2 separate regions of the Homo sapiens genome follow, and region 2 is linked to region 1. Evidence: fine-mapped expression QTL. A gene starts in region 1. The other region holds a variant in brackets. All regions are shown on one strand. Distances are from middle to middle. Region 1 holds the start of FCHO2-DT (FCHO2 divergent transcript). Region 2 has its middle 18 kb from the start of TMEM174.

Region 1 (5,380 bases):
CCTAATGCCTAAAATTGACAGGCTAATCCTAAAATTCATCTGGAAATGCAAGGAACCCAGGGCAGTCAAAATAATCCTGAAAAAGAAGGAAAAAGCTAGAGGACTCATACTTCCTGATTCCAAATTTGCTATACAAAACAAATTTGTAATCCAAACAACAGCAATCCAAACTGTGTGTTACTGGCTGTCGTAAGGGAAGACAATGGAATAGAATTGAAAATACAGAAATGAATCCATACATTTCTGGTCGATTGATATTTGACAATGGTACCACAATTCAACGGGGAAAGATGAACCTTTTCAACAAATGGTACTGGGACAACTGGATACACAATTGCAAAAGAATGAAGTTATACCTTTCCCTTGCACCATACACAAAAATTAACTTCAAATGGATCATAGAACTAAACAGAAGAAGTAAAACTATAAAACCCTTACAAGAAAACAAGAAAAAAGGCGTAATTTTTGGGTTAGGCAAATAATTTTTGGGTTAGATGCAATAAAAGCACAAGTAATAGAAAAAAATAGATAAGATGGACTTCACCAAGACTTCACGAGAAATAAAAACTTATGAGTTACTTCAAAGAGCAGCATCAAGAAAATGAAAAGGCAGGCCACAGAATGGGAGAAAATGTTTGCACATTATGTATCAGATAAGGTGTGTATCCAGAATATTAAAAAAAAAAAAACTCTTACAACTCAATTATAAAAAAAGACAACCCAATTTTTAAATGGGCAATTAATCTAAATAGACATTTCTCCAAAGAAAATATAAAAATAGGCAATAAGCACATTAACTGTGATGTTAAGCATCAAAGAAACGCAAATCGAACCACAATAAAATATTAATACTACTTCACGTTCACTCACTATATTATAATAAAAAGGACAAATAAGTGTTCGTGAGCATGTGGAGAGGAACCCTCAGATATTGCTGGTGGGATTGTAAAATGCTACAACCACTTCAGAATAGTATGGCAGTTCCTCAAAATGTTAAACATAGAGCTACGATTTGACCCAGGAATCCCATTCCCAAAAGAAATGAAAACATATGTTCACACAAAAACTTGTACAAAAATGTTCATGCAGCATTATTCATAACCCAAAAGTGGGAACAACCAGATGTCCATCACTGATTGGATAAATATTAATAAAATGTGGAATGGAATATTATTTGACCATAAAAAGGAATTAGTAGTGATACATGCTACATCATGGATAAACTTTGAGAACATTATGCTAAGTGAAAGAAACTGGTCACCATGGCCCCATTTATAGGATATGTCCAGACTAGACAAATGCAGAGAGGCAGAAAATACATTAGTTGCCTAGGCCTGGGGCAGGGGGAAAATGGGGAGTGACTGCTAATGGGTCTAGGGATTCTTTCTGGGATAACGAAATTGTTGTAAAACTGATATGGTGATGTTTACACAACTCTATGAACATATGAAAAAACCTCTGAATTGTACTACACTTTAAATGAGTGTATTGGTACGGAAATGTGAACTCAATAAAGCTGTTTAAAAAACAAAACACCTAAGGTCTAGTATATACGTTCTTTGTGGAAAACAAGGTACATTCAAGACAAATAAATAACTATGAACTGATCTGATTACTAACCAAGACCATGCTTGAGGCACTTAGAATTAAGAATTTAACATACATTCCTTACTAGCTAAAAGATTACCCCTTTAAATATGTCTAAATCTCAACGAAAATGGACCTGCAGTACTTGCAACTGTCAGGGCATAAAATGGGATTCACGAAAGATACCTGAGTAAACACGTTCCTTTCCTGTACATGGCTGAACTGTACTTCCCATTACAAAAAAAAAAACAATAACTGCAGAAAAATACTCCACCGGGAGCCGGAGAAATTCTCAAAGAAGAATCTAATACTGAGCTAAGACAAGGGGTGGAAAGAATGAGGAAGGGGAAGGAGCACAGAGTAGGGGGAGGTCTCCATGCATTTAAGCCCAAGGAGTCCAGTTACATTAAATCCAACTTTTAAACGCTTTGTGAACAGGCCCAGAGGCAAAGTCCTGGGCGCAAACCCACGAGCCGAGCTGCGAGGCTGAGAGGAAGTGCTAGTCCAGCCCAACCCCGCACTGGATTTGGTGTGGAAACCGTCAGAGGTAAAAGGGATCGCTCAGATGGGGGGCCCGCGGTGAGGGCAGGAGGCAAAACCCCACCGCCCGGCGCTCCCAGCCAGCGCGCAGCGGGAGGCGGCTGTGCCGCGGGCCCGTCCTTCGCGTCCGAGCTGCCGCGCACGCCCCGCGCGGAGCGCGGCACCGGGAGCCTCCGGTGGGGCTGGGTCCCGTCTCCCGCCCCATCCGGCGCTTTGTCCCAGCCCCGGTGGCCGGCGGCCCCGCTGCGGGCCCCCGGGCCGCGGTGACAGCCCCCGTCCCCATAGGGCTGCGAGCCCGGGAGTCCCTATAGGCTGGCGACCGGTCGCCCGCCGGACCTCACCCAGGCGGGACGCGGCAGGAGGACGCTCGCCCTGCCGGAGGGGCCGCCGCCGCCGCCCGAAGCGCACGCAGGCCAAGCTCAGGCGCCAAAAGCCTTGGACTTCGAAACACACGACTTCCAACATCCTAAGCTTACCCAAAAATTCTCGACGAAATACGCCATGACCATCGTGCCGCCGCCGCGCCGGGTTCCGCGTCCGCGCCCGCCCGCCGCTGTGTAAACACGGCCCGGCCCCCACAGCACCCCCGCCTTTCGCCGCCGCCGCCTTCTTCCCAGAGACCGGCCCGCACCTTCCAGGGCGCATGCGCCACCTAGCGGCTGCCGCAGCTGGGCGAGCACTTAGACGCCACGGCCACGGTGTGCGCATGCGCCCTGTCCCCATTCTCGGGTGTTGGTAGATCTCTCTGCATCCCGGGCGCGGCTGGGTTGAGTGTTCTCTTAGGAATGGTGGAGAACTGGGTCCTTGAGGAGTCACCGGGGAGACTGCTCGCACTGTTTGTGGTGCGACGGGCACTGGCCCAGGGACAGAGGGAAGAGAAGGGCCAGCCAGCGGCAGTGGAGTCGGCAGGCTGGCTGCCCACTCGCTTTCTCTCCTCACAAGACTCGCTTCCCCGGCCTTCGAGGATCTCGAACGGACTATAGTCTGGACTCGCTGGGCTGGAGGAAACTTGGCCGCTGGCCACCCGGAGGAGACTGAGAAGCCTTTGGTCAACAGGGCGCCTTTCCTTGAACCAAAACAAAACTTTCCGAAGCCGGAAAGGAAACGCCCAGTGTCGCCTGAGAGCCCTGGAGCTGCGCGAGACCCAGGCACTGAGTGCGGCCTCGGCCTCTGACCTCTAACACGCCGGGAACAAACCAGCTGGGGCGGCCCGCAGGCCTGCGGGAGCGGAATGTGACCCGAAACCGACGGACTTCCTGACCCATAGTCCATAGTTCTCTTCAGCAACTTGAACATTTTGGAAAAAGAAACAAGTCTTAACATGCCACGACCTAATGGAAAAACTAAATCCCCTTCCTACACCTTGCTTTCCAAAAGTTAAAAAAAAATAGTTAAACGCTATTAGAGGTCTCAAGTTCACTGTCACCAGATCAGCTAGGTCCAGAATCTTCAGTTCTTGAAGCCAAGCCCTACAAATAGATTTATTGTAGCATATCACACCTCTTCAGGTGACTTAAAACAATGAGAATTCATGAGAAATTATCTTCATCCTCAAGTAAAAATCATGAGGTGCCTTTCACATGGATGAAATTGTAAGTGCTTGTTGAACAAGGAATAATTGGATAATGGTATTGTGGTCATACTTTTTAAGAATATCTGTTAGAAAGATATAGGATGCAGAACATCTAGGATTTGCTGAAAGTCATTTATTATGGATAGGGGTATGAGTAAGGTCATAGATGAAAAGGGATGAAACAAGATTGGCCATAGTTGCTCTATTTTTGTGTATCTTGTTTCTTTATTTTGTTTCTTTAAAAAGTCCTCATATCACTGACATTTACACTTAGTTTTAGGGAAAGTCAAATTTAGAAATAAGCTACAGCTCTCTAAGCTATCGGTCTAACTGGATTTTTCTCGATGCTGAAGAACTTTTTAAAAAATTCAGCCATCTAGGTCACACAGCAAATACATTTGGCATTAAATTCCTAGTATCACTAAAGTACTCCCTCCCACCGCCGCGCCCCCCCCCTTCCCCCCGCACCCTTAGACCTGGGCAAGAGAGACTTCTATCCTGGACTCCATGCTTTAAAGGAACTTACATATCACACACACACATTAATTTAAAAAAAAATAGGTGCCCCTGCCGCTTGTGATCTGATACTGAACACTGGCTCATAACCATAAATTCCCTCTCCCAGTGAAGAACACTATTCAGGCCCCAGGAAAACTCTTCTTCCTATCTTTTGTCTTCTGTCCTCAAAACAAACGGTGAACTCCAAAAGCAGTGAAAATTTGTACATAGCATGGCTGCCCATTTCAGAGACTGCTTTGGAGTCAGAATTTGAGCAGCAGAAATGCTTAGGTAAGAGAGAAGACAAATTAACTTGTCAAATCCTTCATCTCAGCTTGAATGCTATAGATTCCTGCATGACAAAGTATTGTTTCTCAGTAGTATCAAGCATACATTTTCCTTTTGTTAGTGTTCCAATGTGTGGCTATTACCTACAGACAATTTAGTATAGTATTCACAATAGTTACTGGCCTTCATTCGCATTCTTCTGCTCCCCTTAAATTTAGGAGTAGATCTGGAATGAAAATAAGTATTCTGAGTATTTCAGGTATTTGCAAGGTTCATTAGGGCCGAAACACCATATCCTGTAATTGCCTGATGTTTAAGTTGTGGAACTTTATAGTAAACAGTGATTAAGGTGACTAAATTTCAGACAAGACTGTGTAGTATAGGAAGAGCGTGGATGGTATCAGCCTCCTTCTGCACTCTCAAGTGAGGTTTCCAGGGATGAACATACATTCTGGCAGAGCATAGATAAGCTCCTGAGTGGGTAGTGCTGGGTGGGGTTACAGGCATGAGCCACCGAGCTTATATGCGTTAAAGTGTTTGTGCCACACTCTCTTAGACTTTGCTTATCAAAATGTATTTCATTTTGAAATTATTAAAAACCAACATAGATAACAACAGTGTACAAGTCACTGCCTATAATACCTGTCACTTAAGAGTCAGTAAATGTTCAGTGAATGAATGAATGATGACATCTATCATAGAAATGTCAAGGTAGATGAGACCTTGAATATGTAATAATTCCATTATCTTTTACACATTCTCTTTTTTTTTTTTTTTTTTGAGACAGAGTCTCGCTTGGTTGCCCAGACTGGAGTGCAGTGGTGCGATCTCAGCTCACTGCAACCTCCACCTCCCAGGTTCAAGCGATTCTCATGCCTCAGCCTCTCAAGCAGC
Region 2 (5,380 bases), 200 kb before region 1:
CACATGAGCTCCCCGTCTTCCATCATGAGTGAGAGCAGCCTGAGGCCCTCACCAGAGGCAGATGCCCAGTCATCAAAATTATAAGCCAAATAAACTTCTCTTTATAAATGACTCAGCCTCATGTATTCCTTTATAGCAGCAGAAAATGCACTCAGACACCAACTGAACTGAAAACTACCTTGATGGGGCTGGAATTTAAGTCACAGCCACTGCCATTTCCAGCAAATGATAAGGTGAGCCTCCCAGAGGCCCAGCTCTTGGTGTGAGAAGCTTCTGGATGGAGTAGGTCTGCAGTGGGCTTGCTTCTGAGCTCAGGAATTTATGTACTTGTATGTTAGTTTCCACTTCAGAATAACCACACACTTAGAGGCTTAAAACTACATTCATTTATTCGTTCACGGTTCTGTAGGTCAGGCATCCCTCTGTATTATCTGGAGGCTCAGGAAATAATCTGTTCCCAAGCTCATTCAGGCTGTTGGCCGAATTTGGTCCTAAGCAACATAAGACTGAGGTTCCAATTCCCTGCCAGAAATTCCTTTCTGCTCCTAGAAGCCCCCCACATTCCTTCTCACTTGGGCCGCTCCATCTTCAAAACAGCAATAGTGCTGCAAGACTAGCCAAGCTCTTGAGCTTCAAGTCTCTCTGATTTCCCCCTTTCTGCCCTACTCTTCTGCCACAACAGCCATGGAAAGTTATCCGGTTTTAAGGAGCCATGTGATTAAATTACACCCACCCAGATACTCCCTTTTTGTGGGTCCACTGTGCCGTATAACATAACACAATCATAGGAACGATGCCACATGTTCTCAGGCTTTGAGGAATAAAGATGTGGGATTTTTTTTTTTTTAGCGGGGAGCATTTTTAGAATTCTGCCTGCCACATTCTGTTTCTGTTGCTGAGACCCAAAGAGAGTTAGTAAAGGACGAATGAGTCTGCTAAGAGTGACCAGGGGACATGTTTGTCCAGGCCTCATCAACATTGCTAAGCACGTTCAAGTAACAACACTGCAGTGGGTCTTGCAGGCCTTCACATGTCCAATTTACTCTACTGCAGCGGTTCTCCAAGTGGGGGCCCAGAACCAGCAGCAGCAGCACCTGGGAACTTGTTAGAAATATATATTTTGGGCCCCACCTCGACCTACAGAATTAGAAACTCTGGAGATGGGGCCAGAGGTCTGTGTTTTAGCCAGTCCCTTGGGTGATTCTGATGCTTGCTCAGGTTTGAAAACTATTTCTCTAAGGTAGGTCCCCAGTTTCCTTTTCTATGGAAGTAAAAGTTGGGGAGGAGTCAGATAGGTAATCTCTAAAATGACTTCCATTTCTAACAACGTATGATTTGTGAATATTACAAAAAAGATTACACTGTAGAGACCAAAGAATGCACATATATGTCAATTGTGTGTGTGTGTGTGTGTGTGTGTGCGCGCGCTTCCATGCATGTCACGGTTAAGAGTACAGGCTTTGGAGTCTTTTCTACAATCAAATTCTGGCTTCTCCAATCACTAGCTATGTAAATGGGCCAGCTGCTTAGCCTCACTGAGCCTCAGTTTCCTCATTTATGAATGATGGGACCTACATCATAAGGTTATCAGGATCAAGTGAGATCATACAGAGAACACATAGCGTAGTAAGTTCAGTGACTTTCGGCTATAATTACTTCATCCTGTTCAGTTTCTGGAAACTTTCTCCTTGAGTGCTTGAGTCTATGGTGGGGGTAAAGCACCCAGGCCCTTGTCAGGAGGCCCTGAAGGCAGCCCCGGGAGGCACTGCCTGGGGACTGAGGATGAGCTGCTCCTAGGCCTGAAGGCAAAAGTGAACCTTCTCTGATTCCTAGAGTCAGCTTAAGTCCTGTCACTGCAAAGGAAGACATCTTGGTAAAGCGTGTGTATATAATCCCACAGCCACCATGATCTCCTCCTCAGAGATCATACAACCCGAGGCAGAAAGCACGCATCTCAACACCAAGTCGGCTGAGATGTGGAGAGCGGGGCTGGAAACCCTCAGGGGCATTTGCAGAGTTTTTATTATATTTGTTATTATTGGTTTTTGTGTTTCATTGTTGTTTTTGTTTGTTTTACATGTTCAAAGGAACAGAAATAGTTAAGGCCTGGAATAGAGTCAACATGTGCCTCTGTAAAGTTGAGGTAGGTCGGGAAGTGTGTCACCGGGGGAACATAAAGCAACCCCCGCCCCTGCCCTGGCTCACAGGCCTCACCAGCGGAGCTGCGAGAGGTCTTTCCAGAGCTTGCTGAGAGGCCTGAGTGGAGATGAAGACCCTGTGAGCCAGAAGTGTGGGAGAGAACAGCCTCCTCGCACAGGCCTCTGTCCTCCAAGGGGAGCTGTGCTTTTCTCAGCCTGCTGGCAGTTGCCTGTGGCACTGAGGCACTGAGGGAGGGAAGGCAGAGACCACCCAGTGTGAATTGCTGCTGCCTGAAATGGAAACTGTTCTCCCAGCCATAGGCAGGCAGAGCCAGGAGGGGCTATTCCACAGCTGCTCCCCACCCGCAGCCCATTCCCAGGCTCCACATGGCTCCCTCAGCCTCAATGCCACCAAGAGAGCTGCTCAACCTGCGAGGCACTAGCCCGTCTGCTAACAACCACAGAACGCTCTGGGAGGGATGCGGCTGGGTCTCCTTTGCCTCCTCTGAGCCACAGAGATTGGCCCCCCGGGGACAGGTCTTCCGATTTGGGTTCAATCTCTGGCTGAGGTCTTAAGCAGTTTTTCTATGCTTGATGATATGTGAGTGAGAGCCTGAGAACTCTTCCTGCCTCCTCTTGGAGAATGTCTGCCAGCTCCACATAGGAGGTAAGCTGTTCCAGGAATCGTGCATGTGAATTC[G/A]GCTTCATAGTTTTGGCTTCATAGATGGCTTCATAGTTTCAAGATTAAGGGCCAAAGATGAATTCACAACGGTTCTTGCCACCCAGTACTTCATTTATTCCTCTTTAATGTCCTCTATATATTAATCCATTTAGGTCCTTTCATGCAGACCAAAGTTGTCCAACATTGGAGTAATACTTTCTTGTCCCTTTGGTCCCCTCTAAAAAGCCCACCAATAATTTGATTCAAAGTAGAAGAACTTTGGATAACAGAGCGTTCTGCAATACTAAACAAGGTTCATAAAGTGCCACTCTGGAAGGAGTCTTAAAGACCAACAGCCAGCACCACGGATATATTTTTAAATGGTGCTGAGTAAGAAACGTTAGGAAGCAAATGAGGACTATAACATAATGTAATATATGTAAATTTTAAATAAATACACAAAATAATAATCATATCTTATAGAACTACATACCTATTCAAGGATAAATATCTTTCACATTGATGTAGTGGCCTGTTGGGAAGAAAGGAATTAGTGCTGGGAATGGAGAAGGAGGGAGGGAGAGAGGAAGGGAGGAAGGAGGGAAGGAAGGAAGGAAGGAAGGAAGGAAGGAAGGAAGGAAGGAAAGAAGGAAGGGGAAGGGAGGAAGGGAGAGGAAGGGGAACAGGGAAGAAGGGAGGAGAGGAAAGGGAAGAATTTAATAATGATGATAGCAGATTATGTCTTGAAGAATATGGAGTAACTCTAACATAAGTTAAAAAGGAAGCAAGCCCTAAATTAAACCTTTCATTTTACAGATGGAGAAACTGAGGCTCAGAAAGATGAACTGTTTGATGCTGGGATTTTATTGCTGTTCAGAGGCAGAAACCAGGCATTTTGACTTCCAATTCAATGTGCTTTCTACTGCATCAAACTGCTACACGTATACTTATAATGCCTCACTTCCTTCCCTTCTAATGAGTAATTCATCTAAGTATAGTTTTAACTGGAGAGGTTGATCATTGCTGGCCCAATTCATGGTCCCTCTCCCAGAGAAGCCACCCACCCCTACTGAAAGACTGAGGCCTTGTTGGACACCAGGTGACCCGGATCACCTTCTCTTGGCCGATGGGCCTGAGGTGGGAAACTGATTCAAGGGCAGCCCTTCCAGAGACAGGGTGGGGGTCACCAAGCATCCTGGTTTGCCTTGGACTGAGGGGGGTCCCAGGATGCAAAACTCTCTGTGCTGAAACTAGAAAAGTTCTGAGCCACCTGGGACAAGCTGGTCATCCTGGCAGGGAGGGACTTAGGACCTGTAAGGCCAGCTTCAAAAATAGATTCTCAGTGAGAAACAGGGAATCTAGCAGACCGAGACTGTTGGCTGCAATAGAAGTGCCGTGGTGTAGAAAGAGGGCAAGGGGCACTAAGGAGCTTCCATACGGGTCCTATATAAACAAAACTCAAGAGCAGAAACTTCGAGAAGTGGAGGACACTGGTTGACCAAGAGAGGAGAAAAGGGTCTATCTTTGTTTAAAGACAAGCAGATACCTGCCCGCAAGAGAAGGACTCTGCTGCAGAGAGGATAAAACTCTCGCATTGGCCCTTCATTTCAGAGGCACACGGTGGCAAGATGGGGGTGCAGATCTCCAAGAAGAGGAAGTTTGTCACTGATGGCATCCTCAAAGTGGAACTGAAAAAGTTCTCACTCGAGAGCTGGCTGAGGATGGCTACTCTGGAGTTGAGGTCCAAATTACGTCAACCAGAACAGGAATTAATACAGGAGCTTAAAATAAATTATTTAGGCAGATAGTGAGGGTAAGAGAATCCTCGGCAAGACTTCTCTCTTAACAAAAAGCAGCCCCCGAATCATTTATTTTCTAACAAAGAGCAGCCTGTAAAATTGAGCTGCAAACATAGATAAACAAGCTGGAAGCTTGCATGGAGAATGCCAGCAGCTGTGCCAATAGAAAAAGGCTACCCGGGGGTCAGGCATGTTCAACATGGAGGCTCCATCTTCCCTTTTCTTTGTCAACCACATGTACAATAAAGGAACAGGCAACATGGCACAGGCCAGGTAGAGAACCCATCACATAAAAAATAAGGGTGGTATGGCCAGTTTCTTTACAAGCTATGTAAATGACACACCTGGTCCCACCAATCGAAACCGTCTGCTCAAGCTCATCTATAAAACGCTGTGCATTTCACCATGAAACTGAAAAACCTGCTTGGGAGCCCATCTCTGCAGGAGAGAGAGCTTTTTTCTTTCTTTTGCCTATTAAACCTCTGCTCCTAACCTCACTCCTTACGTGTCCACATCCTTGATTTCCTTGGTGTGAGGCAACGAACCTCGGTTACTACTCTAGACAAATGACGCTGCTTCAAAATCATAATCTTAGCCACCAAAACACAGAATGTTCTTGGTGAGAAGGGCTGGCAGATTTGGAAATTGCCTGCTGTAGTTCAGAAGAGGTTTGGCTTCCAGAGGGCAGTGTAGAGCTTTTTGCTGGAAAGGTAGCCACAAGAGGTATGTGTGTGTTTGCCTAGGTGGAGTCTCAGTGTTACCTCCTGGGAGGGCTTGCAGCG

What was found. PIP is the estimated chance that this variant, and not a neighbour inherited with it, causes the effect. A credible set is the group of variants that fine-mapping cannot tell apart.
Region 2: its variant is the best candidate, but not a certain one, in a credible set for the expression of FCHO2-DT in whole blood (INTERVAL, PIP 0.74).

What each region holds. Positions count from the first base shown.
Region 1 is chr5:72,953,353-72,958,732 of GRCh38, reverse strand. FCHO2-DT (FCHO2 divergent transcript) reads left to right here and starts at 2,849. Exons shown (of 2, transcript NR_186392.1): 1 at 2,849-3,719. FCHO2 (FCH and mu domain containing endocytic adaptor 2) reads right to left here and starts at 2,692. Exons shown (of 26, transcript NM_138782.3): 1 at 2,604-2,692. The coding sequence starts at 2,636. RefSeq lists a silencer at 2,100-2,799.
Region 2 is chr5:73,152,784-73,158,163 of GRCh38, reverse strand. It overlaps the pseudogene LOC101060067. Among named protein-coding and RNA genes, the nearest start is that of TMEM174, 18 kb to the left of the region's middle. RefSeq lists enhancers at 1,914-2,414, 2,415-2,915. The variant G/A (reference allele first, on the strand shown) is at 2,839.